Linked DNA regions of Homo sapiens. The protein of the gene in region 2 interacts with the protein of the main gene of each other region in a pairwise test. Each region holds a gene or a part of one and is shown on either strand. Other genes may lie near its edges.

Region 1 (4,316 bases), on a different chromosome or scaffold from region 2:
AATGACAAAAACTGCAATTACTTTTGCATCAACCTAATAATTGTCAACTAATGCACTAATGGGCAGACCCTAGGAGGACTCATACATTTATCCACAGAGAGGATGGTGAATCAGTGTACACATTTGTAAATGGCAACTAATGTTGGAAAGGCCAAATCTGGACAGCTGTGGGGAGAATTAGTAGCTTGCATAGTGAAACTGTTATGATAATAAAGGGAAACAAGTTCTTTTTCTCCTGTGGGAAGTCAGGGACCCCGAATGGAGGGACCGGCTGGAGCCGCGGCAAAGAACATAAATTGTGAAGATTTCATTTTAATATGGACATTTATCAGTGCCCAAATAATACTTTTATAATTTCTTATGCCTGTAATCTCTTAATCCTGTTATCTTCATAAGCTGAGGATGTACGTCACCTCAGGACCACTGTGATAATTGTGTTAACTGTACAAATTGATTGTAAAACATGTGTGTTTGAACAATATGAAATCAGTGCACCTTGAAAAAGAACAGAATAACAGTGATTTTTAGGGAACAAGGGAAGACAACCATAAGGTCTGACTGCCTGTGGGGTCGGGCAAAAAAGAGCCATATTTTTCTTCTTGCAGACAGCCTATAAACGGATGTGCAAGTAGGAGAGATATTGCTAAATTCTTTTCCTAGCAAGGAATATTAACATTAATACCTTGGGAAAGGAATGCATTCCTACGGGGAGGTCTATAAATGGCTGCTCTGGGAATGTCCGTCCTATGTGGTTGAGGTAAGGACTGAGATACGCCCTGGTCTCCTGCAGTACTATCAGGCTTATTAGGGTGGGGAAAAACTTTGCCCTGGTAAATCTGTGGTCAGACCGGTTCTCTGCTCTCGAACCCTGTTTTCTGTTGTTTAAGATGTTTATCAAGACAATATGTGCACCACTGAACATAGACCCTTATCAGTAGTTCTGCTTTTTGCCCTTTGAAGCATGTGATCTTTGTACCTACTCCCTGTTCTTACACCCCCACCCCTTTTGAAACTCTTAATAAAAACTTGCTGGTTTTGAGGCTCAGGGGCATCATGATACGTGATGTCACCCCCAGCGGCCCAGTTGTAAAATTTCTCTTTATACTGTCTCTCTTTATTTCTCAGCCGGCTGACACTTATGGAAAATAGAAAGAAGCTACATTGAAATATTGGGGGCAGGTTCCCACAATATTTTTCTTTTACTGAAATCTCCCTCACAAACTGTAGTATACTCTCATGAGGAACTCTTATTCCTCAAGGGACATCAACATCTCAGGTAAACTTTATTTTGCTCTCCTATACTTAACCAGCAGCTTTTGGCATTTCCTTTTACAAGTATATTAATGTTGTATACACATAGGATAGAATATTATTCAGCCTTAAAAAGAAATGAATTTCTGACACATGCTACACGTACAACCTTCATTATGCCAAATGAAATAAGCCAGACACAAAAAACAAATACCATATGAATGTACTTATATGCAGTACCCAGAGTATCATATTCATAGAGACAGAAAATAGAATGGTTGTTGCCAGGACCTGGGGAGAGAGAGGGCTGGGGAGATATATTGTTTTAATGGGTACAGATTTTCATCTTGGGAAGATGAAAAATTTCTGGAGAGAAATAGAAGAGATCACTGCATAATAAGGTAAATGTACTTAATGCCACTAAACTGTACACTCAGAAATGGTTAAAATGGTGTGTTATGTCATATATTTTACCATATTTTAAAAAGTTTTTTAAAAGTATATTGTATTGGCCAGGTGCGGTGGCTTACACCTGTAATCCCAGCACTTTGGGAGGCTGAGGTGGGCAGATCACAAGGTCAGGATTCTGGGAATAGCCTGGCCAATATAGTGAAACCCTGCCTCTACTAAAAATATAAAAAATTAGCTGGGTGTGGTGGTGGGCACCTGTAATCCTAGCTACTTGGGAGGCTGAGGCAGGAGAATCACTTGAATCCGGGAGGCAGAGGTTGCAGCAAGCCAAGATTTTGCCACCGCACACCAGTCCGGGCAACAGTGCGAGACTCTATCTCAAAAAAAAAAAAAAAAGTATATTGTATTGATTGGGTCTTCTCTTTTTTGAACAAATATATTTCCTTACATGAACAAATTTTACAATAAAAATTTATGTCCCATTTATTCTGTTTTCAGAGATTTGCTTATTACTGGTTGGCTTTCTGTAACCACCAAGCAACTAACCACCACTCCACTATATGGATGCAAAGATACCCTTCTTTCACATCCGCTGTCTCACTTTTGCCCTGTTTCCTTGGTCTTCCTCATTTAGGTTGGTCTGCTTTCCACACCTTCTGAATTGTGAAACTTTTTTTTTTTTTTCTGAGATGGAGTCTCGCTCTGTCACCCAGCCTGGAGTGCAATGGTGCAATCTTAGCTCACTGTAGCCTCTGCCTTCCCGGTTCAAGTGATTCTCCTGCCTCAGCCTCCCTAGTAGCTGGGATTACAGGCATGCGCCACCACACCCGTCTAATTTTTATATTTTTAGGAGAAACGGGGTTTCACCATGTTGCCCAGGCTGGCCTTGAACCCCTGGCCTCAAGTGATCCTCCCATCTCGGCCTCCCAAAGTGCTGGGATTACAGGGGTGAGCCACTGCACCCGGCCGGTGCAACAAATTTAAGTTCTAAATTCCTCCAGAAAAAATTCCGGACAGTGCCCTGTAGATAGTTGGTAAGAAATAAAAAATAAGCAGATCTTCAAAAAAAAAATGAATTCTTCCTTTAAAATGTTTTGCAGCACAGTACAATTGCTCATAACTCTTCAAGATTTCCCTTGGTAACTTTTTTCAAATATGTTTGTCTATTGGTACAACTAAGACCTTTACACCCATTACCTTGATTACTAAAAATTGAAAAACTTTTTAAATTATGCCCATTATTCTTTCAGTTATTCATTAATTCAGTTTTTCATTCAACAAATAGTCTTTGAGCATATATTATATGCTCACCACTTACTGTAAATTTTTCTTTCCAAACTAGTATTTTAGGAAAAAGGGTCTCCCTGTTGCGCAGGTTGAGTGCAGTGGCTATTCACAGGCATGATCCCACTACTGAACAGCACCAGAGCTCTGACCTGTTCCGTTTCCAACCTGGCTGGTTCACCCCTCCTTAGACAACTTGGTCTCCTTCATGCCCACCGCCAGAAGGTACCATATTGATTCTGAACTTATGCAGACATGCAGAGCGCACCACAGTCCAGAACTCCCGGCCTCAAGCAATCTTGCTGCTTCAGCCTCCTGAGTAGCTGGGGCTACTGAAGCATGCCACCATGCCTGGCTACAAACTATTCTAACCAAGCATGGGAATGAGAATAGTCAAGAAGTGATAGATTATCACAAAGCAGAATGAATAATTCCCATTATCAGGCTTAGTGGAACAACAAAGCTGACACCACCATTAATTCTTCCCTAAATTAACATATGGTACATGTGGACACTGCTGTCCTCATTACATGGATGAATCTAAGAGATTGTCTTTGTACTCTAGGTGAAAGGGCCCTCCGTTTGGCCCCTCCCTGCCCTGCCAGCTAGATCTCATAACAATCAAACACCACTCCACTTTCTTCCTCATTCTCCAGGTATTCACCAGCCCAAGAGCTTCACATCTCCAGTTTCTGCTACCTGGACTGCTCCAAATCCCCACCCTGTCCTTTCCCAATCAGGTTTAGTGGTTCTCAGCCTTCTATAATTTCAAATCTATAAAACGGCAAGAAAAATAGAGTGGGATGTGTATACCGAACTAGGATTGCCAAACTTTTGGCCAAATAAGGACACTCAAAACTAACAAAATGACCCTCATATGTTATCATGTAATTTCATTAACAAATATATTTTTTACCCACAAAAAGTAGGAAGGATATAATCTCAAAATAAAATATAGATTATTTAAATTAAACTAATTTAACCTAATAAAAACTCACTACATTGTCCTCAATTTTTCTGACCATTACTCCGAATCTCTGCTACTGCCAACCCGGTTCAATAGTCCCCATCATTTCATCTCATGCCTGGATTATCACAGTAGTCTCTTACTTTACTTGTTCCTTCCATCTTTTCTCCTCTTACATCTCTCCTAAGCCCAGCAGCTGGAGGATCCTCTTCAATAGGAATTACCCTCAAAACCCTTCATTGACTCCCCAGAGTAAAAAGCCAAAATACAGGAAATTTTATCATCTGTAGCTCCAGCCCTTTAAATCTCTACACCGGTACTGTCTCATAGAAATATAACGCAAGCCATGTATATAATTTTAATCTTTCTAGTAGTCACACCAAAAAAAAAAAAAACAATCTAG
Region 2 (4,790 bases):
TCTTATAGACAAATAGAAGAGATCATAGGATACATTTTTGACAGGGGGTAGCAGTATTTTTTGTTGTTTTGCTTGGGTCTCTCATTGTCTCTTTTCCCATCTTCACTTTTCCCTGTCCTACATCAACCCCATCCTACTCTCACTTTATTCTTGCCCCATAGGCAATCCACATTAACTACCTGGCATGTATCCTTCACACTCATTATAAATTATATGTCAATTATGTATGTATGTATGTCAATTATAAATAGATCTGTACATCCGTATTTGTACTAGAGGCAAAGTTCGCATGGAGGAATCTCAAACTTCCAGATTGTTTATTTCCTGTTGATATCTATAGCCAAATATTCTCCTTCCTGATTTGAAAATATTGCTTATCTCTTTTTTTTGTACTCACCCTTAATGAATTTCAGGCTGATTTAAAGTAGTTTCCTCATTTTCTGACATTCATTCACTTGAATTCTATTTCTCTTGTCTGTGCTAGAAACTATTCACAAATGATTCAAGCTGTGACATATGGCAGTGTGTCACACAGGTGGATTAGTAATTCTTTTCTGGTTTTCTACTTTCGCCTCCACAGAATAACTGATTACTTTGTAAGGTTAAGAGTAAGAATATACGAGAAAAAATACATTGGTTTTTATTCTGCTAACAGTAGACCCAGGATTTCAATGCCTTCACTTGCAAGGAAAAGGCTCCCCCAGAGCCTCTTAGAGGCTCCAAACTGTGTGAGCAAAGTTAAGGATCAGTAAGAGTGGGGTCATATGAGAAGACCTTAGAATTTATGTTATAGATGAGAGTGTTTGAAATCTTAAGATAATAAGAGGTACAGCTACACCACAGATGTGATAGGAGACCTAATAGTCTCATTCTGAACCAAAGGTGACTTCTCCTGTCACTGCCTATGACAATTGGCATTGAACCCCATCCTCCTTTTAGAGCACAATATTCATTTTATTAGGCCATTGTGAGAGATCTCAGCTCAGCATAATGGGCAACTTCCCGTGACTCTGGGCCACTGGGTTATTCTGGGACTTAACTACTCTGAGTTTTCTCACTAGAAAGTTAGTGTTCACACAAGGAAAAGGCAACAAGAACCTGGTGGTCTGGGGTTTACTCCTGTTCTCCAGTCTGCACAACCCCCTCTTTCTCTACCGTTGTGTACATCTTTATAGGTCTTGAAACCTTTTGCCCACACACAAATGCCTACTGTTTGTCCAGGCTCTTGCCATAAGGCTATAGTTCTTTCTCTTATTTGGGAAGGAAAGTGCTTTGTATGAAGTAAAATGCTGATTCCTAGGAGTTGAGGAGTGTGAGGTCTCCCAGGAGCAACTCAGAGGCTTCCTTCCTCGGAGCTGGAACTGGCATGCCTGATAGGGTTTCCTTGGGTGAATCCTTGATCCTTAGTAGAGGGTACCTTGGCCAGGAAGAACAAAGCTCACTCTGGTTCTTGTATTTTGGAGGGCTGTTATTTACGTAGAAGCAGAGTCTGTCCTTCTCTTGCCAATCAAAAGGATTTCAAAGCTGCTGTACCAAGAACTGTTTTCAGATTACTGGTTTCAGAAACTATTGACCCTTGTCCTCCCTTTCAATAGTGAAATCCCAAAATGGTCCTAGGAGAGACAAGTAAATTCTGACAGCTGCTTAGAGGTCATCTTAGAACTAAATTCCAAAGAAATAATTTTAGGCTGATAAAGAGTCCAGAAAAAGGAGGAGGGAGAGAAAAAGAAAGAATTAGTTTAGTGTAGCGAATGGTAGCTATTTGCAGCTCACCCACGTGTGCTCCGAAGGTCAAAACCCTACATCAGCAATTTGTAGCAAGCTCTTGAGCTCCTCTACCTCTTAGAAAGCACAATTGAATCAGATATCATATGAAAGACATACACACTTCATGTAATGCTACCTGCAAGTCTCCCTAGAAAAGCAGTTTTTGTAGGTGAAAACAATGAAGCCAGGTAATATTGCAAGGAGGCTGTAATTTTAGCAGACCTACCAACAACACTGATGTAGGAAGCTCATTATTTTAATTTCTGGAGCCTTTTAATTTTTTCTTTAGAAAGTGTATAAATAATTGCAGTGCTGCTTTGCTTCCAAAACTGGGCAGTGAGTTCAACAACAACGACAACAACAGCCGCAGCTCATCCTGGCCGTCATGGAGTTTCTTGAAAGAACGTATCTTGTGAATGATAAAGCTGCCAAGATGTATGCTTTCACACTAGAAAGGTAATAGATGTCTGTGTCTGCTTCACAATTTTCTCTGTTGAATATCATCCAATTCCTATACCTTGTTGCTTCTGAATTGTAGGCCTTTACTCTGCAACTTGGGGGCACTCTGGAACATTTTATAAGTTGTTGACTGACATGTATTTTATATTCTGAAAAATGCAATACTTTATATAGTTGATTTGATTCCTTAAATATCCTAAGTGCATAAAGAACACATTTTACTGATGTGTTTTTCATCTGTCATGTTTATTCCAGAAAATAGACCTATATAATCTGTTTACTTTTCCTTTTCTCAATTATTCTCAATTTTAAGATAGATAGTAAATTTTATTATATTATATTTAGAAAAAGTTAAGACTTCAGCTACATGGCAAAATTGTGGTTGTATTGATCTTAAAATGAGCTGTTGTTTTCATGCTTATAAAGTATCATTATTAATATACATACCTATAACAAATATAGCTGATTTTAATGTTCTACAAAGTATTCCATTTCTTTTTAATGTCTCCCACAGTGTCACATGCAATACATTCATTCATTTTTCACTTGGTTAACAATTATTGATTGAACACACCTGTAGTAAGTGCAGAACTTATAATGAGAAAGAAAAAAATGTCTAGTTTCAGATCTTTGTCCTCTTGAAACTTAGTCTAATGTGAAATACATATTAGAACTAGGCAATTACAAAACAGTGTATTTGTGTCATATTGAGGGTGTTCAATAAGAATAACTGGACTTTGGAATCAGAGGAAGCTTTCTCAGAAGTAATAGGCTAAGAGCTAAAAATAAAAAGGAATTAAAGTAGGGTTAGGGATAACCTACATAGAAAATAGTTTTAAGGAAAGTTTCCCAGACTTCGATAATTGCACAGTAAATATACTTTCACATACATAAGAATGTGAGCTTGGTTTGTTTGAGGAGTTGAATCTGAATGGGGTTCAAAAAAGGAACACATTCAGTGAATATAAATGAGCTAATGAAAATCTGAAAAGAATTGATGTTAGAAGAAGAATTTAAGAGAATACTTGCCCATTAATAATACGTGTAATGTTCTTGTTTGTTTCACAAAGCCAAACTAATATTCTAAGGAGTAGTGATACTATGTTTGGGAGCATCAAATATTTTAGTAACAGCAAAGAGATTTTATAAAAAGGATATTTATAACTTGGCTTAAAACAAAGAATCTAGCAATCTCACATTAGAAGAATTATTTTTCTTAGAAAATAATATTAGATATGATGTATTGAGGTTATTAACATAAAAAACAAAGCCTTGTGGTAAGTCAGGCAGAAGTTTTGGACAAAAAATTGTTAACCCTATGGATACTATCAATAGAGCATCTCCACATTACTGAAATAACAATATTTCCCTTCTTATTAACATAGACTATTAGCATTTTGTTGCACAAATAAGCCAACCACTTATAGTTACAAAGTCTCATTCACCCCATAAATAGGTATGGTTTTCAGGACACAGTGTTTATAAGAATTGTCAAACTCATTTGTATTTTCTTGTCAAGGGAAATAAATTAAATCTGGAAGAGATTATTTATCTCGATCCCTCATTTTACCATGTAGGAAACTGAATGCCAGATAGAACAAATGCCTTTCTTGAGGTCAGAATAAATGTGTTTCTTGAGGGCAGATGGCTAATTACAACAGAACTGGGCTGTGGACCCAGGCCCCCTTCTTGTTAATTTAGTGTTCCCCTTCTCCGTCTACATCTCCTGTACCCATACATGCACCATGTGGGCTCCTGAATCCTTAATCTATCTCCTCCTTAGGTCACATGTCCCTGAATTCCCTCACTTACTCACTTCTTCCCCCACCTCTACCAATCTATCTCATTTATTTTGTTCTGTCTCTATTAGTTGTGGATAACTTTATCCCCTGATATTCCTCCTCTTTTCTCCTTCTACCTCTTTTTCTTTCTACTTTCTATTATCAGCTTTCTATTTAAATGGTTACTGGCTGTTAAGAAACTTACTCTGAAGAAAACTTTATTATCTAATTCCACAAATGGAGTGTTCCATTTATCTATGGCTGTGCAACAAACTACCCCAAGATGTAGTGGCTTAAACAACAACTATTTTATTACGATTCTCTGGGTCAGGATTTGGGCAGCATTCCATGTGAATTAGTTGGAATAGAAGGCTGCATTCTGCTGGTATCTGGGCTAGGCTAGAAGGTTTAAGATGGCTTCACTCACATGACTGAGATCTTTGTGTTGGCTTTTGCCTGGGGCGGGGGTCTTAATTCTTCTTCCCATGGCTTCTCTCCCTGTATGATGTCTCACTTTATCTGGTTAGCCTGGAATTCCTTATGTGACAGTCCAGAGTAGCAAGAGAGCAATAGTGGAAGCTGACCATTCTCAGATAGCTTAAGCCCAGAACTGGCACAGTATCATTTTTATCACAATTTATGGGTTAAAGCAAGTCCCAAGTCTCAGATTCCATGGGTGAGGCAATAGATTCTATCTCTTGATTGCATGTGCATATTGGATGACAGGAATTGCTGGAGGTAATCTTTACAGGCATTTTACCACAGGAAGTAGTAATATTGGAC
Region 3 (4,316 bases), on a different chromosome or scaffold from region 2:
GTCACCTGGGATAGCCCAAGTCCTAAGATGGGCTAAACAAACACCATAATTTCTCAGACAGCCAGCTATAGCCTTGGAGACCTTTCAGTTTGGTAGACTTTATCCAGCTCAGCACTGAAAAGAAAGAGGCTTTGGGCCGGGCGCAATGGCTCACTGAACCTGTAATCCCAGCACTTTGGGATGCCGAGACGGGCAGATCACCTCAGGTCAGGAGTTTGAGACCAGCGTGGCCAACGTGGTGAAACGCTGTCTCTATTAAAAATACAAAAATTAGCCGGGCGTGGTGGCACACGCCTGTAATCCCAGTTACTCGGGAGGCTGAGGTACAAGAATTGCTTGAACCCGGGAGGCGGAGGTTGCAGTGAGCCGAGGTCGTGTCACTGCTCTCCAGCCTGGGCGACAGAGACGTTTTCTCAAAAAAAAAAAAAGAAAGAAAGAGGCTTTGCAAACCTCAGGTTTTTGGGCCGGCTCTCTGGCCTGTGCGGAGCACACCCCACAGCGACTGCCACGGGGCTCTGGCTCTCCTGGGACCGGGTGGACCCACTTCCACTGGTGAGCGCAGCCTGCATGGGAGCTGAACCCTGTGGGAAGCGGCACCCCGGGCGCTGGGGAGCAGCGATCCAGAGTCCAGGTTCTGAGCTGCTGCACCGGGGCCGCGATCTCCACCCCTCACGCCCGAGTCCCCGGCACGGCCACCACCGGCCCCTGGGTCCCGAGGGCCCCGAGGAAGAGGCCAAGGGGCCTGGCGGCGCCCCCCAGGGTCCCAGTGGAACAGGGGCACCAGGGCCGCGGCGCCGGGCATGGCCTTCACACTCCCCACGAGGCAGGACAGCCCCGGGCTAGGGTGAGGGGCACGCGCCGCAAGTCCTGCCTCTGCTCCCGGGCGGCCCCCTCCAGCCTCCGCCGGCCCCGCCCCGGAAGCGCAGCCCCGCCTCAGGCGCCGCATCTCCGCCCTCTCTTGCGCCTGCGGGACCGGGAGGGCCGCGCTCGCCCCCCAGCGCCAGGGTCACGCCACCGCGCCCTGTTTGGGGAGCGGCAGAGGAGTCAGGGCGGAGGCTGGGCGGCGCTGGGCGGTGGGGCGCGCTCACTGGCTGCCACCTCACCTAGCAGGCGTCACAGGGCTCACTCAAGAGCTCCAGCAAGAGCAGAGGCGGGAGCCTCGCCAGCCCCTCCACAGACCACAGCGACCGCGCCCCTCGGCCCGGAGGCCCCGCCCTCCCCACTCCTGCTTCCCCAGCCACGGGGTCTTCTCCCGGCCCCTCATCTACTTGGCAGACGCCTCTCACCGGCAGCCTCTGCCTCCCCCTGGTCTTTCCCTCCCACCACCCACCGTGGAGTCCTCTCCGGGAGGCCCTGTCCTCCATCCAGCGCTCCTCAGAGGGGACCGGAGAGGAGGCGCTCCTTAAATGGGGAAGAAAGACGGACAGAGCCAGGGACAGCGAGAGACGGGACGGGGACAGAGACACAGAGACAGAGAGACAGGGCCAGAGAGACACGGGGATGGGGCCAGAGACGGGGCCAGAGACAGAGACACAGAAAGGGATCTTACTCTTTCTTCCCTTAAAACCAGCTTCTGGGGGTCTCCGAGGGGGACTCTCAGGTAAGTAACAATATTATCACCTTCCCTCCCAAGAATTAAAAAAAACAAAAATAACGAAAAAACCTTTTCCCTGAACTTGATTTTGAGGGAAAATAGGTCACAGATACAACCCACAGCCACCAAAACACACATACGGATGCTGTGAGAAGTGGTGGGTCAGTGCCTCGCTGGAGGACAGGAGGGGCCTCTGGGAGCTGGGGGGGTGGCCCCTGAGAAGCCTCAGGGTCTGGCCTGGCTCAGAGGCCTGGGGCGGAGTGGGGAGCCCTGGACTTGGGAAGCCTGGAGGCTCTTCTGGCCCCCGCTCTGCCACAGGGAGCTCCTGCAAACAGCAGGCCCAGGGCACCCCACGCGTCTGCCCAGGACACCCCAGGTGTTCGCCCAGGTGCTGAAGGCCCAGGCTGGCCTCCATGCAGGGTTACCCACCACCCGCCATAGAGAAGTAATGCGCCACTCCGAAAGAAAGGGGTGCTGCCGGCTGGACGCAGTGGCTCACGCCTATAATCCCAGCACTTTGGGAGGCCAAGGCGGGTGGATCATCTGAGGTCAGGAGTTCGAGACCAGCCTGGCCAACATGGTGAAATCCCATCTCTACTAAAAATATAAAAAACTAGCCGGGCGTGGTGGCGGGTGCCTGTAGTACCAGCTACTAGGGAGGCTGAGGCAGGAGAATGGCATGAACCCCGGAGGCACAGGTTGCAGTGAGCCGAGATTGTGCCACTGCACTCCAGCCTGGGTGACAGGGTGAGACTCTGTCTCCAAAAAAAAAAAAAAAAAAATTAAGAAAGAAAGGCATGCTGCTCCTGAAGACCTTCTGCTTCTCCAGCAATGGACTAATGGACTCTAAGACACTGCCTGAGTTCAGAGATGGACAAAAGGTGACAAGACACCAAGTGTGAACAAGAGCAGCAAAACATACAAACTGCAAAATGTTGATGGGGCAAAGGTGAAACTAAGAGAAAGGGTCTTGCTCAGTCACCCAGGCTGGAGTGCAGTGGCATGAATACGGTTCACTGCGGCCTAGACCACTGGGGCTCAAGTGATTCTCCCGCCTCAGCCTCCCGAGTAGTTGAATGAAGCTGCTCCATGAAGAAAGACCACTAACTAAACATGTAAGAACTCAGGAGAGAAACGGCAAGGAAAGAGGAGAAGGTGAAACATGACCTGGCAGAAGTCGAGAAAGTAAAAGAAAAAAAATCAAGCCACCACCCAAATGAAGTGGAGATTGGAAGCAGCACAGGGAGAAACAAACACCGGGAAACACAGCGGAACACAGAGGACAGAAATGAGTTAAAAAAAAAGACAAAAGATAGAGAAATGGAAACAAAGTTAGAAGGACGGGAACGCCTGGCACACTGCTGATGGGGACGTGAACTGGCACAGCCTAGTGAAGACCATCTGGCATGTGCCTGAGAGGTTAAGTGTGGAGCAGTGGCCCAGGACTGCCACTCCTGGAGACATGCACTCCCAGCAGAAATGACACACCTGTCCCCACAGGACGCTGCCCATGAATGTTTACAGCAGCACCATTCCCAACAGCCCCAAAGTGGAAACAACACAGATGTCCGTCAACCAATGAGTAAACAAACTGCAGTATATCCAGACAATGGAATGTTATTTGGCCATAAAAATGAAGCACTAATATAAGCTGCAATTCAAATGGCCCTTGACAACACACCATATGAAAGCAATCAGGCTCAAAAGAGCACATATTCTGCAATTCCATTTCTGTGAAAGGTGCAGAACACACACATCTACAGAGACAGAACGTGGGTCAGTGTTTCTCCACAGCTGCGTTCTGTGGCAGAAGACGCTAGAGTCACACGTAGAAGGCGCATGAGGAGGGAAGGTGAGTGGCAAGGATGCTACGGCTGGCCACAGCGATCCTTCCAGATTGCAGGCGCGTGAGCTGGCTCACTGACACGTGCAGTGAGTGCGAGCTACAAACTAGATTCCGAAAACTCAGTCCAAAAAGTCTTCAAATAATTCAATAATCTTATAGTATGGGTGGTTGCCTGTTGAAATAATTTTTAGATAATATCGGGTTAAATAAAATATATTATTAAAATCGATTTCACTTGTTTCTTTTTACCTTTTTAATGTAGCTATTAGAAAATATTAAACTACATAAGAGACTCACTCTCTAGACCTTTTCGACAGTGCAGGAATGGAGTTTTCAACCCTTGGCACCCAAGGAGCTTTGTTTCTATGTCTTCTCCCTGAGGACATTACCAGCAGCTGGATGTCATCAGGAGACAATAGGGAAATGATGCGGAAAGAAACCTCCGTAAACACTGAATGTACTAAGCCAAAAAAAAAAAAAAAGCGGTTATAGAAACAACAAAAAAAAACTGGTTATAGGTGGTAGATGCCTGGTCGTACAGGCATGACACTCAACTCATAGGACCCTTGAAGGGGCAGAACTCCCCACTGGTCTTGTCCCTGAGAGCTGACACCACAGAGGCTTACAAATGAAGTAGCAGTGGAAGATTTCATTTTAAAAACTGGGCCGGTTGCAGTGGCTCATATCTGTAATCCCAGCCCTTTGGGAGGCCGAGGAGGGTGGATTGCCTGAGCTCAGGAGTTTGAGACCAGCCCAGGCAACATAGCAAAACACTGTCTCTACCAGAACTACAAAAAATTGGCTGGGCGTGGTGGCACGTGCCTGTCGTCCCAGCTACTCAGGAGGCTGAGGTGGGAGGATCGCTTGGGCCTGGGA
Region 4 (4,316 bases), on a different chromosome or scaffold from region 2:
TTATAGAATCATACTATTCAAGAGATTATTTAGTTTGGTCTCAACTTCAGGCAGGTAAAATAATTTTCCTAATTTATATTTGAGGGATCTAAGGACTATGGAAATCGAGACTTGTTGATTGTGAGTGGATCCTCTAGAACCCAAGTATCTGTCTTCTTGAGAGGTATTATTTCAGTTTTACCATACTGCATTCTCTCTAAAAGTCTTGGGACTTACTGGACCTAAGCATAAAAAAATTTATTAGTTCAGTTAATCACTTTTACATATTGCCTCATTTGTTGATAGGCTGATTATAATCTTATTTGAAATAAATTACCCAATACTAAGTGTTATTAGTTACTCAATTTATAATCACAAAAGATTATTGTCAAAACAGGCCTGAAAACTGCACTGTTGATAAACTTTAATTAATTAAAGTTCATCTCTGAGAGATATGGTTTTTAAACTGTGAGAATAATTAAAATATCCCTTTAGAAACACTAAGGTAGCTATATAATCATCCTAATAATCACAAAATTATCTGTTACTACATATTTACTTCCTCCTGGAATTTTCTGTTTATTAAATTAATATTTAAAACATTTTACAATGAGCATATGTTGTTGCTGTTTCAAGAATATGTCACCTCATTCTAACTGATTGTATTAAAGTAAGCAGTTTTAGGATACGGTAACAAATAGGTTTATTGAACTTTAAAATATCTTGACCACAAGTTGGATTGACACTGAAAACTAAATGAAATCTGAATTCTGACTAGTATAGTACTTCATGTTGGGTTTGTTTTGTTTGTTTGTTTGTTTGTTTGTTTGTTTGTTTTGAGATGGAGTCTCGCTCTGTCGCCTAGGCTGGTGTGCAGTGGCGAGATCTCAGCTCACTGCAAGCTCTGCCTCCCAGGTTCACGCCATTCTCCTGCCTCAGCCTCCCAAGTAGCTGGGACTACAGGTGCCCACTACCATGCCCGACTAATTTTTTGTATTTTTTAGTAGATACTGGGTTTCACCACGTTGGCCAGGATGGTCACGATCTCCTGACCTCGTGATCCGCCTGCCTCTTGTTGGTATATTTAACAATAGCTTTGAAATAAAATTTATCTTTAAAATGATGTCCTTGAATATTTGTTATGTAAGTATATTTCAGAGTATTTGCTTTGACTGAATAATGCTGTTCATTTTTTGTAGCACGAATTTGCTTAAAATTGGGAGGCTGTTTTTGGATCAGCATTATATTTTAATATTTGATAAAGCAACAGAATTTAATTCTTCTAGTTACTACTGAACTGTTAGTGTCTAAATGAGCCTTAATAATAAAAAATAACCAGATCATGTAAACTAGCCTTTTTAAAAATAAATTAGGCTGGGCACAGTGGCTCATGCCTGTAATCCCAGCACTGTGGGAGGTTGAGGTAGGCGGATCACCTGAGGTCAGGAGTTCAAGACCAGCCTGTCCACCATATATGGTGAAACCCCCTCTCTACCAAAAATATAAAAATTAGCTGGGCGTGGTGCCACACCCAATAATCCCAGCTACTTGGGAGGCTGAGTGAGGCAGGAGAATCACTTAAACCTAGGAGGCAGAGGTTGCAGTGAGTTGAGATCACACCACAGAGTGTGACTCTGTCTCAAAAAAAAATACTAATACAAATAAATAAATTATACCATGCAACAGACTTAAACCATTTCAAATTGGCTTTATTTGGGGAGCTCCCTATTGTTTTAGTATTATGAATAGCCAAGTATACTTACCAAATATTAGAATTGGTAAATATTTAGGTTTTTTATGTAAGGGGATAACGGAATGGGAAGGTATTGCTGACTTTTCAGATAAGCTCCTGGTTGTATTATGAATGCAGGGAAATCTCCTTTTATTAGACATCAAATCCTTCCTCAGAATAACCCATCCAGTTCCAACTTTAGTTCCTAATGTTATATTCTTTAATGGCCTTACAGAAGGCTGGGCATGGTGGCTTAGGCCTGTAATTCTAACACTTTGGGAGGCAAAGGCAGGAGGATTGCTTGAGGCCAGGAGTTCAAGATCAGCTGGGCAACATAGGGAGACCTTGTCTCTACAAAAAATAAAAGAAATTATGCAGGCCTGGTGGGCCATGCTTCTAGTCCCAGCTATTTGGGAGGTTAGGGCAGGAGGATTACTTGAGCCCAGGAAGTAGAGGCCACAGTGAAATATGATTGAGCCGCTGTACTCCAGCCTGGGTGACAGAGTAAGACCCTGTCTCAAAAAACAACAAAAAAAATTTTTTTAATGGTCTTACAGGAAAGAGCATAGAAAATTATTACTAAAAAGACCTTTGCAGAAGTTAAATGCTTCCTGAGGGAAATTCTAAACATATGGAGAAGACAGCTTAATATAGTTTAGGGAGTGGGGGAATATGTTAATCACTGAATTATTCTTTTCTATTCAAGAGTCAACAGAACATCATTTGTCTGGAATTTGGCTTGGATTATTAACTGTTGACTCAAGTTCACTCTTACCAAGTCAATCATTCCCTACCCCCAGTACCCCAGAAAGAGCATATTTTATGAAATTTTTTATTATTATTATTCATTCAGTGTTGAAGCTTTCTTAGGGAAGTTGGTAGAGAAATTAATAGAGAATGCACTGGTATATATTAATATACTCAAAGATGGAGGGCTTTCTGATTGCTGTTTTTATAATGATTTTATCTTCTCTCCTTTGTATCATTTAAATGTGTTTTATGGCTTATACTCTGAAGTGCCTGAAGTAGATTAATGTTTGCAGGCCATGGAGATAAATACTATAATAGAATGCTTAGAAAAGCTATTAAGTAGAGCTTTTTTGTTAATTCTCTTCCATTTTGATTTAATAAGTATTCTAAAATTTTCATTCCCTTGAAATTTTGTAAGTAGTAAAATGCTCCAGTTTTCATGGTCGTTACTCCATCTTTGGGCTTGTGAGTCTTCTATGTGTTTTCTTGAGGTACACTGGAGGATTTAGGAAAGTGGAAATAGTACTCTCAGTTCTGTCAGTAATTTTAGGCAAATCACACTGAATGCCTCCGCTCCTGTTTTTTATCTGCCAAATGGGGAAGGCAGTCTGTCCCTTCCACTTTGGGAAACTCTGAGAGAGAAAAGTGAGGTTGCTGGAAAATTCTTTTAAAAATTGAACCTATAATTTTCCATTTGTAGATTGTTATGGCCTTTATTAGTTTTATTTTTCCTTTTGTATGTTTCACTTTTTGCTTTTTTAAGTTTATAAGCATTGGTCTAGTCAGCATTAAGGGTAAATATAATGTTTATAGATTTTTTTTATCATTGTTTCTTAGAAATTTTTATTTTTAAACACACTAGTTCTCTGTCTCTGTCTCTCTCCTTGTCCTCCTGAAAACACCCATTGCCACAAAGTGTGTAGAATTTTGCACGCACATGTGCATGTACACACACAGACATAACTGGTTAATACCTTTTTTTTTTTTTTTTTTTTTTCTTTGGAGAAGGAGTCTTGCTTTCTCGGCCAGGCCGTAGTGCAGTGGCATGATCTCAACTCACTGCAACCTCCGTCTCCTGGATTCAAGCAATTCTCCTGCCTCAGACTCCTGAGTAGCTGGGATTACAGGCGTGCGCCACCACAGCCGGCTAATTTTTGTAGTTTTAGTAGAGATGAGGTTTCACCATGTTGGCCAGGCTGGTCTCAAACTGCTGACCTCAACACTGCTGCCACAGAGTTGGGATTACAGGCATGAGCCACCGCACCTGGCCTGGTTAATACCCTTTTGAATGTCAGTTGAGATGATAGAAAAAGTTTGAAGGTTACGAATATTGGCCAGTGGTAAATTGTGTTCCATATTCTTATATAGAAGACACATTTGAAAGTATAAAATGGTAGCCTATGTTAATAAGACTGATTAAATAAATTACAGGTACACATCCATTCAGTGGGATAATATATAACCATTCAATGATAAATAATTGTTGATAGTCATGTGATACGATGTAGCAATATGGAAAATGCAATAAGAATAAGAAAAGCAGAATACAAATGTACTTTACTGGAACTGTTAGCTTTACTTTCATGTTACTGTATCAATACCTATGAATGCTACTCTTAAAATTATTGCTAATGCTACTTCTAGTTCCATGCAGTAAACTTTTCAGAGAATGAATTTCACATCTGGTTAACTTTATAGTACAGTGCTGTTAGCAACTCAAATTAATACTCATAAATGCTTAGATATCTATTTAAGTGAAACCTCGATTTCTACTCTCAGAAGGTACAGAGACTTTTTGACACATAACTTTCAGTTTCCTAAATACTTTTATATATGAATATAATCATTTCGCTCA
Region 5 (4,316 bases), on a different chromosome or scaffold from region 2:
AGCAGACAATACTCATGACATTGAGATAAGTAACCAAAAAGAGAACAAAATTGATTACATAAAAGGAAAAACTTCTGTATGACAAAATATTTTATAAGCCTTATTAAAAGACAGACTTGGAAATGCTGTTTAGCAGTGAATTTTAATAGTTACTGTCAGAATAATTTAAATGCTGAAAGTTTTATTTCTGATCTCATCTACTTTGTGGAAATGTACATCTAGGTGAACACATTTAAAAATTTTCGTATGTATTTGTCATATAAAATTCTTTTAGCATAAGGAAATATGTAAAAAATTACATTAGTTTCAAAAATATCTTTTTTAGATGGAAGAATATATCTTTGTTGGGACAAAATAATGCATCTCTTCAAGAATTATGGCCATAAGGAACATGTTCTTAAAGTAGATTGTTACCAATGGTAAAAAAATATTTACTAAAATGGTTACAAATGCAATGTTGATATTAGAAGTTTATGCAGTGTCATTATAAGTGAGTAGCCTAACTTCAAATGTTTTATTTTGTTCAGTCAGGTCAATTCAGTGAAGATATGATACCCACAGTGGGCTTCAACATGAGGAAGGTAACTAAAGGTAACGTCACAATAAAGGTAAGTTATTTCTTGCCGTACGCAATTTAAATTGTTAGCACAGACCCCTAGAAATTTTTCTGTTAAATTTCTGTGTTTTTACTGAAAATTTGCAGTTTTTCAGTAATGAATGTGCATGTTTCAAAAGAATAGGTTTTTTTGTTGTTGTTTTTTTGTTTTTTTTTTGGAAACAGAGTTTTGCTCTTTCACCCAGGCTGGAGTGCAGTGTCGCGATCTCCACTCACTGCAACCTCTACCTCCCGGTTCAAGTGATTCTCCTGCCTCAGCCTCCAAAATAGCTAAGATGACAGGCTTGTGCCACCACACCCAGCTAATTTTTTGTACTTTTAGTAGAGACAGGGTTTCACCATGTTGGTTAGGCTCGTCTCAACTCCTAACCTCAAATGATCTGCCTGCTACGGCCTCCCCAAAGTGCTGGGATTCCAGGCGTGAGCCACCACGCCTGGCCAAGAATAGATTTTTAATCTATTTTGTTTTTCAAAAATCAAATCTATGGCCTGAGCCTTAATGTCCATTTTGCCCAATTATTGTGGTTTACAGAAGCTGTTCACTTTCTCTGTGGCTCATCTAATGAAGTTCCAGATTTAGTCAAGTGCAGGTTTCTTTATGCTTGTTACCAGTGCTTTAGTTAAACCGGAAGCCTCTTGAAGATTAATACTGTGACTTGAGACTTTAATGTAGCCCAGTGTCTAGTGTGATGCCCTACGGAGTAGACACAATAATAAAATGATTATGGATGTGGCTTTCATGTGCATAAAATAATTTTATTTTATTTTATTTTTTTGAGATGGAGTTTCACTCTTGTTGCCCAGGCTTGGAGTGCAATGGTGTGATCTCGGCTCACTGCAACCTCCGACTCCCAGGTTCAAGTGGTTCTCCTGCCTCAGCCTCCCGAGTATATTACAGGCACCTGCCACCACACCTGGCTAATTTTTTGTATTTTTAGTAGAGATGAGGTTTCACTGTGTTGGCCAGGCTGGTCTCGAACTCCTGACCCCAAGTGATCCACCCGCCTCGGCCTCCCAAAGTGCTGGGATTATAGGTGTGAGCCACCATGCCTGACCAAAATAATTTTATACAAGAAAAACACCTATGTGGAAATGTTGGCTACTTATTTACAGGATAATTTCAAAAGGTTAGGCATTAATGTAGAACAAATCAGACGATTAAGACTTAATAGATTCTGAATTGTTGTTTTCTGTCTTGGCATTCAAATCTGGATGGTGCATGGTCCTGTAGCTTTTAAATTGTTATCATAAAGACATATGTTTTCAATAATAGAAGTATATTAGTTAACAGGCAAACTATTGCACATAAACCAAATCTTTGCTTAAGCAAAATTTTAGATGTATTGTAAATGTATTAAATACGGACTTCAAGTTTAGAAGTGGCCCCAAGAATTCCCATATTAAGAGCTTGTTTGAGGTCAAGTCTTTCAGGAGCACTTTGCCTCTAACATTGTAGAAATAAATATATCTTCCCGATCTTTCTTTTTTTCTGTTACTTCCTCTTGCAATCATTTAATTAAAATATCTTTATTAAGAATTGCCTTGTTTTGATTTAAAGATCTGGGACATAGGAGGACAACCCCGATTTCGAAGCATGTGGGAGCGGTATTGCAGAGGAGTCAATGCTATTGTGTAAGTGGTTTTTTTTTGTTTGTTTGCTTTTAAATCAATGTAGGCATCAAAGAAGAAAGTTTATTTTAGTATTTCCAGAGGCTCAATTTTTATCTCAGGCAGTGAAAATCTTTCTTAGCTAATATCCTAGTGTAATTCCCAACATGGGATTTAAAAAAAATTAATCATAGAATAAGATCTTTATGTTTTTTGTTTATGGAGCTAAGAGCTAAGGGGTGTACATGTTTTACTATCATGTATTAGTCTCTAAAAACAGTCTAGTTAAAAAGTATTAAAGGGTGCTGAGCCTTTTCTTATGACATAGTTTATTTTGGTTAATAATTTCAATAATGTAAATCTTACAAAAATTAAAAATCAATAATACTAGTTGTCATCATCAAGGCATACAGAGAAGGTATGTTGAGATCACTTCATTTTTTTAAGTTACATGATAGATGCTGCAGATCGTGAAAAGATAGAAGCTTCCCGAAATGAGCTACATAATCTTCTAGATAAACCACAGTTACAAGGAATTCCAGTAAGTATGGAATACTTGTTATTTTACATTGTAATTATATAATGATATTAATTATGGTAATTATGCAGTGATATTAATTATGTTTGAAATCAGTAACATGTCTTCATTTTTAAAATCTGGAAAACTTGCTTACCATGTATCTGCCATATACTGGGCATTGTGCTAAATATGAATCTCATAACCACGTATCTACTAAACTACTATGCAGCAGGAGCAGTGCGTAGGCCCAGGGATATAGTGATGAATGGAAATCAGTAGAAACATACTCCTTGCCATCATGGACCTTATGGTTTAGTGGGAAAGGTAGATACTCTGAAAACACTTGAATAATGCAGCTTTAAGTGCTAGGAAGAAAGGTGCAAGGGGATATGAGAGTTGTAATTTAGAGGGGAGATGTGATCTAGTTTGAGGGAAGAAGGAGGGATTCACGAGGAAGTAATGGTTGAGCTGAGATCCAAGGGATACATACAAATGTGAGGTATATGACAGTTGGAGGGGAAGAGAGTTCCAGGCAAAGGCCTTTGGGTGGGAGGAAGTGGGAAACTGAGAAGAGGCCAGTCTCTAGAATACATTTAGGAATTTGCATTTGGATTAGGAATGCTCAACCAGTAAGTATATAATGCAAATCCAAAAAATTTCCAAAATTCGAAACACTTCTGGTCCCAGGTATTTTGGATAAGGGATAGTAAACCTGTACTAAGAATAGCAGAATGCCGCCGGGCGCGGTGGCTCATGCCTGTAATCCCAGCACTTTGGGAGGCCGAGATGGGCGGATCACCAGGTCAGGAGATCGAGACCATCCTGGCTAACGCGGTGAAACCCCGTCTCTACTACAAAAAATCAGCTGGGCGTGGTGGTGGGCGCCTGTAGTCCCAGCTACGGCAGGAGAATGGCGTGAACCCGGGAGGCAGAGCTTGCAGTGAGCCCAGTGGCTGCTGCACTCCAGCCTGGGTGACAGAGCGAGACTCTGTCTCAAACAAACAAACAAACAAACAAACAAACAAAAAGAATAGCAGAATGTGTATCATAGACTCAGACTATTTTACATAGCAGTTGGCAGCCACATACTGAATTAAGAGCACCTGCATGGTGGGAGTTGAGTGAATACAAGTGTGAGCAATGAAATGAATGAGACAAGCCACCAGTTACACAAATAGGCCTTAACATTGTGGAATGTGTTAACATCTTAACTTTGTGTCTTCACATATCAAGATGATAAACTTCTGTGACTTTTTCTTGCATAAACGTGTGCTCTTAATATCTTTTCTTTTTAAAGGTGCTAGTGCTTGGAAACAAGAGAGATCTTCCTAATGCCTTGGATGAGAAACAGCTAATTGAAAAAATGTATGTCTTGAATATGCTATTTTAATAATTTGCTTCTAAATTACCATATTTTGCCCACTTGTTATGTTATTCCTAATGATCATAGCCATTTTTTTTAGGTAGATAAAAGTTGGCCTATCAGAGAAGTGAATCCTAACATTTTAGGATTGCTACGATGATTTCTTCAGTATAGTAATAAAACTAATGAGTAAAATTGAACAAAGTGAT
Region 6 (4,316 bases), on a different chromosome or scaffold from region 2:
TTACAGGCGCACATCACCACGCCGGGCTAATTTTTGTATTTTTCGTAGAGACGGGATTTCACCATGTTGGCCAGGCTGGTCTCGAACTCCTGACCTCATGATCTGCCCACCTTGGCCTCCCAAAGTGCTGGGATTACAGGCGTGAGCCACCACGCCTGGCCTGGTCACATTACTTAAAACCCTGTGCCTTAGTCCCTTAACCTTTCAAGATAAGGTTAAATATACCCACCAAGAGGGTTATTGTGATTAAATGTTATGAAATATTAAGAGTTCATGGCCGGGCGCGGTGGCTCACACCTGTAATCCCAACAGCACTTTGGGAGGCGGAGGTGGGTGGGTCACTTGAGGTCAGGTGTTCGAGACTAGCCTGGCCAACATGGTGAAACCCTGTGTCTACTAAAAATACAAAAATTAACCAGGCGTGGTGGCACGTGCCTGTAGTCCCAGCTACTCGGGAGGCTGAGGCAGGAGAATTGCTTGAACCCGGGAGGTAGAGGTTGCAGTGAGCCAAGATCACGCCACTGCACTCCAGCCTGGGTGACAGAGCAAGACTCAAAAAAAAAAAAAAAAAAAACAAAAAAAAAAAACTTGTTAGCAGTCTGAGTGGCATCTAGTAGCTATTCGATAAATAAGACTCTCTGTCCCACTGGCCCCCTCGCTTTTCCCCTTCTTCCTTTGTATAGTCATTGTCACACTAACAGGATAAAAAAAGAGCAGTGGTGTAGAATTCAACTGGGCAGGAATTAGGAGGACAATGGCAATATCCCAAGGGACAGAGAGATCAGGAATTTTCTACTACAAACAAATTAATGTAAATGGCTACCTCTCATTCACAAAGGGTGATGCTCACCCACCATCAACACAACAGATGAGATATTTGTTCTTCAAGGTTCCCTTACCTCAAGTACAAAAGCCAGCAAGTATGGGAGAGATGAAAATGGCAGTCCTAAATAGACTGCCCCTATGACCGTGACCTTCTTACTGCTTGATCTAACACAGCACAACCATGAGAGATGATTGGTAAGCAGCTGAACACAGTGGCCAAAACAATTTCCCTGTATAAGACAATTTCTCTTTCTACAGCTTTCTGGGACGAGATGTGAGGAAAACTGTGGTAATCCTGAACAGTAAGTATAGAGTTCAAGCTGGGAGGAAGGAGCAACAGACCAAAACATCACTACCCCAAAAGAGAGTCAAGATGTCATTAGACATCTATGACTTCTTTTTATTTATTTTTACTTAAGTAATAGATCTCATAGATGACTTATCACAAAATAAAGACGTGTTTTTGTCATCTTAAGCACTCAAAATAACACTGCTGACAGCATGTTTTTACCCAAAGCCAATCTTCCCATCAAAGCAGCACGATTAATCTCAACTTATACAGTCATAGAGACTTGCAAAAGACTTCCTTAGCCCTGCTCCTCAGTGACTCACCAGGACAGACGGTTTAGTATCTAGTCACTGGCATATATATTTGGGTGATTTCCAAAGTAACATTATTACTTTAAATTGGGAAAGTATTTTCTAGTTTTTAGGGCATGTTAACATTTATTGGGCAGACTTCATTTAGCTATCACTTTGATGTAGTTATCAACTAATCCAAACCTGTCACACTTAAGTCTTATGTAGACACAGAGGACATGAAGATAAAAATGCAAAAGAATCATTCCACTTAAAGGAACTGTAAAATACAAATTTTAAAAAGTAGTGGCACTTTGAATAAAAACGTGTTTAGGATGAAGAAAAATACATATTTAGCCATGGGAAGGGTTTCCCAATAGCCAGGTCTGTTAAACCCAGGGAAAGGGTGATAGCCTTGATTACCTGTCACATGCAAATTGGGTGTTGACTACTTGACACCTGCTTTCTGAGGTTTTACACATCTTCCACCATAGGAAGAGTCCTTTCCTATAAACCAGAGTCTAATTAGAACTAGAAGAGTTTTCAACAAGTAAGAAATGTGGGAAAACCAAGAGGAGTCATTGTTCAGTGAAAAACAAAACAAAACTATATTTTCTATAAATGTGTGACCAGAGAATAAAAATAGATTCACTAGATTTCAGTAGATTCCTGTATCAGAAAGAATTATTAAATAACAAAATTTACTACTCTTCAAAGATACACAAATATTTTGCCTCCCCTCATTCTCCAATTCCTGAACTTATCTTCTCCTTCTCCCATACAATCCCTATTTTTTTTTCATTCTTACAGAGAAAATTTACAATTGCCATAGTGAACTCAGAACATTATTTAGCTTTCATCATGGTAAAGTTGGCTTCTACTTTTTTCCCTCTTCCTGTTTGGTCTCAGTGGATATGCAAATTAGTTTTGATCCTGGATGTGAAAAATTAGGGTACTCTTTACGGTGGGTGTGATATTGTGAGAATATATATTTGGTTTTGTCCCTATCTCCTAGCATACAACTTCTAAAATCCCCAAAGTAAGTAGCATCATTTTGCATGCTAATGAGTTGATTGGTGGCTGGCAGCCCCTAGGTAGATTTAGGATGGGGCTGGTCATTGGAAGGACCAATGCAGAATGCTTAAAGCCTCACCCCTCAACATCCAAGGAAAGTAGAGGGGCTGAAGTTTAAGTTGATCATCAATGGCCAATGATTTAATCAATCACGCCTACATAATGAGGCTTTCATGAAAATCCCAAAGGATGGATTTGAAGAGTTTCTGTAAAGCTGAACAGGCAGTGGTTTCTGAAGGGTGGTGCACTCGGAAGACCTGCAAGCTCCGTGCCCCTTCCCACATGCTTTGCTCTACGCATCTCTTCATCCGCATCCTCGGTAATATTCTTTGTAATAAACTGTAGATGTAAGTAAGTGTTTCCCGGAGTTCTGTGAGCTGCTCTAACAAATTAACGCAACCTCAAGAGGGAGTCAGGGAACCCCCAATTTATAACCAGTAGGTCAGAAGCACAGGCAAAACAAATTGTGATTGGCATCAGAATTCTGGGGAGCCGTCTAGGGGACTGAGTCCTCACCCTATGGGATCGGATCCTATCTCCAAGCAGGTGGTGTTGGCATTGAATTGAATTAGAGGACGCTCAGCTGTTGTCTGTTGCTGGAAGATTGCTTGCCTGGTGTGTGCGGAAATCCTCACCCACCCACATCTGGTGTCAGAGGGTTGGGAGAGTATAGCAGGAAGAAACTAAGTTTTTTTTTTCCTACATTCTCAGTGGGAGTGTTGCAACAGCTTGCAAAAGATAAATTACAAATGTGATTGTATGACTTTCATACTCATAACTGAAATTTTCTTTATGTTTACATTTTATTGACCTCAAATATACACAAGCCTTAAGTTTCACATCCATTTTCAAAGTTACTCTTTGTAAACTTGCATTCCAAGTTCTTTCTTAGTATTTTTTTTTTCTTTTTGAGATGGCGTCACCACGGCCGGCTAATTTTTGTATTTTTAGTAGAGATGGGGTTTCACTATGTTGGCCAGGCTGGTCTCCAACTCCTGACCTCGTGATCTGCCAGCCTTAGCCTCCCAAAGTGCTGGGATTACAGGCATGAGGCACCGCACCTGGCCCTTTCTTGGTCATTTTTATCATAAATGTTTGCAATAGGCACAGACATGTTTTCTATGGACACTTCTAATGATCACTAGTTTGTTTTATAATGATTTACAAAATGACTCAGACAATGCCATCTATAGTATAAAGTACTATTTAAAGCATATCATTTGGCAAAAGATTCAACTAGCTACAGTGAATTTTAAAAACATAACCCATGGTGCTTTATTTATAACAAGGTATCACATCATATTGTAACTCATATTTCTGAGTCTGGAGTTATAACAGGGATTGACTATATTTTTAATGTAGAAAACTTTATTCTTTCTTTATAGTTGCCTGACCACAGACTGGGTACATCTCTGGTATATATGGTAAGTTTCACTTATAATACCCAGAAAGACACTGTATTCCTCAAGGCCATTAAAAATGACAACCTGCCTACTTACTTAGCATCTCATGGAGTAAGATTTCATTACTTCATCACTACCTATGTGACAATATGTCAGGATTTCCTTTTTCAATACCATCTCCTCCGCAAACATCAAACCATTACTGTGTCCTTCCCTCGGAGTCTGTTCTAGAAATATCTCAACGAAGATTACTTTAGTGAATTAAAAAGCAGAGCCTGGCCGGGCGTGGTGGCTCACACCTGTAATCCCAACACTTTGGGAGGCTGAGGCAGGCAGATCACTTTGAGGCCAGGAGTTCGAGACCAGCCTGAGCAAAATAAAGAAACCCCCATCTCTATTAAAAATACAAAAAAAGTTGGGCGCGGTGGCTCACAC
Region 7 (4,316 bases), on a different chromosome or scaffold from region 2:
TGGCCCTACAGTGGCCACATCGCACAGTGGTTGAAGGCACGAGCTCTAGAACCACAGGGCTGGGGTCTTAGACCCAGCCCTGCCACTTACCAGCCACTCTGTGCCTCAGCCTTCTCTTCCACAAATGAGAATGATCTCTTTCTCAGAAATAACCAGCCTGGTGCAGTGGCTCACGCCTGTAATCCCAGCACTTTGGGAGGCCGAGGCAGGCACATCACTTGAGCCCAGGAGTTTGAGACCAGCCTGGGCAACATGGCAAAACCTCATCTTTACTAAAAATACAAAAAAATTAGCTGGGCGTGGTGGCACCTGCCTGCAGTCCCAGCTACCCAAGAGGCTGAGGTGGGAGGACTGCCTGAGCCCAGGAGATGGAGGTTGTAGTGAGCTGTGATTGCCCCACTGCCCTCTAGCCTGGGTGACAGAGGGAGGCCTTATCTCAAAAAAAAAGGAAAAAAAAAAAAGAAAAGGAAAGAAAGAACCTGCACTCCATGATGTGAATATCTATCTATAAAGCACTTGGAGCAGCATCTGACACAGGGTAAGCACTCAGTGAAGCATGGAGTAGCTGTTTTTATTACAATTATTATTATTGAACACTTCAGGGGAGTTAAGGCCTGGGAAATAGCAGGAACTACAACAGAGGCCAGCCCAGGAGCCAAAAACAAGCTGATAACAGGGGGGCCCACAAGCGGCCACAGCAGGCTCTGCCCTGACAGTGGCACTTACCTCCGTGGGTGTGAGGGCAGGCGTGCTGTCCATCAGACCATCCTTCCCCCCAACATCTGGTGGTGGAGGACTCTCAAAGGCATGCTCTTCCTGCTTTGGGTTCATCCTCTGCTGCAGAGATGCCCTGTACTCAGACACAACTACCCAGGGAATGGAGAACAAGGTAGGAGGCAAAAATGAGACACCGTGAGTGGCACTTTAGGGGTACCCACTTCTGCAGCTGGCTGGCCTCTCTTCCCTTCACTACAGGAAAGAGTCACCCTCCTAACTCTGAGCGAGTCACCTAACTTAAGCCTCTTAAACAAAACTTAGATACCACCACCTGCCCCAGACAGCTACAGAGATTAAATGTAGTAAATGCTCAATAAATCATGGCTTCTGTAATAAATAACTCTACCACAGGGAGGAAAACAAATACAGCAATCACCCAAACATATGTACAGACTCGGGCCTCTGCGACTCAGTGCCTCTCCAGACTGCCTCAGCGCTTTAGAAGCCAGACAACAGAGGGGTATTCTGGGATCACACAGAGATGTGGTAGCAACTCCAGGTGGCTGCACCCCAGGGGATGGGTGGCAGCTTTGGGAAAAACATCCTTCCCTCATCTTCCAGAAGCCATCATATCATATAAGCAGTGATTCATCTGCCTTGGGAAGGGAGCGAAGGGAGATGGGAGCCCAATGGTAGCAGCCTCCCCTGGTGAGATTCCAGCTTCATCTAACATCTCAGAGATGCAGAGCCCATGAGAGAGGACCCCAGTGTGGTGTTGCACTTGTGGAAGCACAGCAAACTGATGATTAGCTGTAGAGACAGAAGAACTGGGGAGCCTAGCCTAGCCCTCAGAGCCAGCTTGGGCCCCATCTTTCAGGCCCTTCAGGGCTTACCTCGGAAGAACTCCACATTCCCCAGAAAGAGCGTGCTGTTTAAAAGGGTGAGAACCCAGCAGAGTGGCAGCAAATACAGCATGCAGACTGTGCCCAGAAGAGCCCCATAGAACCTGGATGACAGGGAAGAACCACAAGATCAGAAATTCGTAACAGCAGAAGGAGACGGGTTTGGAGCACACCCACAGCAGGGTCCAGGTGAGACACAGCTCTGGGCACATTAATAAACTGACAAGAGCCGCTCATCAAACCAGCGGAAAATGGCGATGAAGACTGAGAACTATCCCAAGTCACCGGTGCAAACACCTGATGCTGGTGAGGCCAAAGTGGTGTCAGCTGGTGGCACATAAACTGGTTCAACCATCATCACTCCTTAAGGTCTAGACTCTGAAGTCTAGAGTAAGACAGACTGGGATTTGAATCCAGCTCTGCCACTTCTCATTCTGAGAAGTCTCTTGGTTCTCTGGGCACAGCTCCCTTCCCGTGTAAGATGGGGACTGAAGTAGCGCCTACCTAATAGAGTTACTATAAGAGTGAGATAATACAGAGGGAGTGTTGAGCAGTGCCTGGCACCAGGTGAACACAACAAACATTAGTTATCACTATTATTCATATTAAAGAGCCTCAAAAACACCCATTCTGTTTGATATGGTAGTTTCATCCTTGAATTTACTCCAAGAAAAATTTTCTAAAACATTAAAGCTAAATCCATAAAAATGTTTACCATGGGGTTAGTAATGAAAAGGGAAATTGACTAAATCTGTAACAGAATGGTTTCACAAATTATATTTGCCATCTATATTAATCTGGTATTATAAATAATTCCAAAAGCTATATAGCAACAAAGAAAATCATCTTTAATATAATGATAAGTGGAAAACAAAAGAAAAATTGAACATACACTATGAAACTATACATCCGTAAAGTAGATGCATGTGACAAATTCTAGCAGGCAAAACAAACAAGAGATTCGGCTGCATGGTGGATTATATGGTGAGTTATTTTTCTATTATTATTTTTACCACACATAAAAGCAAGCATCTAAACAAAAGCAGTACATTAGAGCCCGCAAGCATATGTGCAGATATACACACAAGAGCCCAGGAGGCGAGCTCTTCCCCTGAGGTAAGAGGGGCAGAGGTCCTCTCAAGGCAGCTGGCTTTGCTCGGGCTCAAGCTGCAAATTCCTATAGGGTGGTGGCGGGAGAGGAGGGGTCACTCACTGTGAGGACACGACGGGGTTCTCCCAGTGCAGCACGCGGTAGGCGGCTTCACATGTGCAGCACAGGCGGCTCAGGAAGGCCTCCAGCTGGATCAAGCTACAGACACAGGGGCTTTGGTGAGTGGGCAGGACAGAAGCCCTGGGAAGTGGAGCCTGGGGCCTTGCAGGTACAGTTGGCTAGGGATGGTCAATCTCTTTAAACACACTCACCATGTGCTTAAAGAGAGAGGAGTCGAGAGAGCATGGGAGAAACAGGCCTGGCTAAGCCACCCCAGCTACATTTCAGTCCCCTTTTTGGAGCCTCTTGCTGAGGTGGAAACAGTATAAATGTTCCTGCTTTGGTCTTCTAACTGTTGATGTCAGGCAGGCTACTGAAATTCTCCAGGGCTGTGGCTTCTTTATCTATAAAATGAGGATCAGAGGACCCACCTCACGGGTACACAGCAGCTGTCAGAATAAATGGCATGATATTCTCTACCTGGGATGTGAAACAGACTCACTTGGGGAGTTCTGGTTGTTGTTTTTTTAAACATGGATGAACCACAGAAGCCATGAGCACAATCTGAACCCAGATCTGGGTTTCTGAAGGGAAACCAGGAAACATGGAGATAAGCTGATTCCAGGGCTGGGGCAGGGAAGTATAAGATGAATTTGACCATCCTGTTGTACCATAAAGGAAGCATTCAAAAATGACAGGGACCAATGCAAACAAGAGCCAACTCAAAAGAGCTCCTACTGGCCAAATCTAGGACAATTTGAGATCAAAATAAATAATGATAGTAATAGATTCTAACTCATCAAATAAAATATAAATCTATGAGTTCATACTGATAATAGTAAGAAAGAGCTTCCTTATAGTAGAAAGCCAGCTAAAAAAATGTCGATAGAATAATTAGAAGATCATCTTTGCAACCATCATAGTAATAAACTGATTAAGGCAAGACCCATCAATGGATTTTTAAAGCAGTGGATAAATGTTTGATGAGGAACAAGATATTTACATAGTCTCAAAGTATCTCCCCTCAAATTACTACTAATGAAGAGTAAAATGATAATTTACAGTATGGATGCCTTAACCAAGTGATCAAAGTCAGTATTTCCTGACATCAGGTGCCTCCTGATACGGATGTACTGAACATGACACATCACTTGTCACACTCTAAATCTGATCACAAGGAACCAAACAATCCAAAAATTAGGGAGATTCTACAAAATAATAAGCTTGTACTATTCAAAAATGTCAAGGTCACAAGAAACAAGGACTGAGGAACTGCTCCAGATTAAAGAAGACTAAAGAGACATAAAAAAATTAAACATGATGTATAATCCTGAATTGGATCCCAGATCAGGGAAACTGATACAAAGAACTTTATTAGGACACCCACACTGGCTCACACCTGTAGTCCCAGCACTTTGGGAGGCTGAAGCAGGAGGATTGCTAGAGCCCAGGAATTCAAGGCCAGCCTGGGCAAGACAATGAGACCC

What was found.
Region 1: the proteins of SLC30A8 (region 2) and HSD17B11 interact in binary tests that used the Homo sapiens proteins (3 or more experiments, as listed by UniProt).
Region 3: the proteins of SLC30A8 (region 2) and THAP4 interact in binary tests that used the Homo sapiens proteins (3 or more experiments, as listed by UniProt).
Region 4: the proteins of SLC30A8 (region 2) and PGRMC2 interact in binary tests that used the Homo sapiens proteins (3 or more experiments, as listed by UniProt).
Region 5: the proteins of SLC30A8 (region 2) and ARL8B interact in binary tests that used the Homo sapiens proteins (3 or more experiments, as listed by UniProt).
Region 6: the proteins of SLC30A8 (region 2) and TMEM52B interact in binary tests that used the Homo sapiens proteins (3 or more experiments, as listed by UniProt).
Region 7: the proteins of SLC30A8 (region 2) and ZFYVE27 interact in binary tests that used the Homo sapiens proteins (3 or more experiments, as listed by UniProt).

The regions. Positions count from the first base shown.
Region 1 is NC_000004.12:87,383,873-87,388,188, forward strand, and holds part of HSD17B11 (estradiol 17-beta-dehydrogenase 11 precursor), read right to left. Parts: intron 1-4,316. UniProt on the Homo sapiens protein: Can convert androstan-3-alpha,17-beta-diol (3-alpha-diol) to androsterone in vitro, suggesting that it may participate in androgen metabolism during steroidogenesis.
Region 2 is NC_000008.11:117,133,176-117,137,965, forward strand, and holds the start of SLC30A8 (proton-coupled zinc antiporter SLC30A8), read left to right. Parts: upstream 1-1,819; 5' UTR 1,820-2,152; coding exon 2,153-2,223; intron 2,224-4,790. UniProt on the Homo sapiens protein: Proton-coupled zinc ion antiporter mediating the entry of zinc into the lumen of pancreatic beta cell secretory granules, thereby regulating insulin secretion.
Region 3 is NC_000002.12:241,609,368-241,613,683, forward strand, and holds part of THAP4 (peroxynitrite isomerase THAP4), read right to left. Parts: intron 1-4,316. UniProt on the Homo sapiens protein: Heme-binding protein able to scavenge peroxynitrite and to protect free L-tyrosine against peroxynitrite-mediated nitration, by acting as a peroxynitrite isomerase that converts peroxynitrite to nitrate.
Region 4 is NC_000004.12:128,273,658-128,277,973, reverse strand, and holds part of PGRMC2 (membrane-associated progesterone receptor component 2), read left to right. Parts: intron 1-4,316. UniProt on the Homo sapiens protein: Required for the maintenance of uterine histoarchitecture and normal female reproductive lifespan. May serve as a universal non-classical progesterone receptor in the uterus.
Region 5 is NC_000003.12:5,169,976-5,174,291, forward strand, and holds part of ARL8B (ADP-ribosylation factor-like protein 8B), read left to right. Parts: intron 1-527; coding exon 528-608; intron 609-2,174; coding exon 2,175-2,248; intron 2,249-2,671; coding exon 2,672-2,765; intron 2,766-4,041; coding exon 4,042-4,109; intron 4,110-4,316. UniProt on the Homo sapiens protein: Small GTPase which cycles between active GTP-bound and inactive GDP-bound states.
Region 6 is NC_000012.12:10,181,467-10,185,782, forward strand, and holds part of TMEM52B (transmembrane protein 52B isoform 2 precursor), read left to right. Parts: intron 1-1,083; coding exon 1,084-1,127; intron 1,128-3,863; coding exon 3,864-3,902; intron 3,903-4,316.
Region 7 is NC_000010.11:97,746,881-97,751,196, reverse strand, and holds part of ZFYVE27 (protrudin), read right to left. Parts: intron 2,929-4,316; coding exon 2,833-2,928; intron 1,724-2,832; coding exon 1,611-1,723; intron 867-1,610; coding exon 727-866; intron 1-726. UniProt on the Homo sapiens protein: Key regulator of RAB11-dependent vesicular trafficking during neurite extension through polarized membrane transport. Promotes axonal elongation and contributes to the establishment of neuronal cell polarity.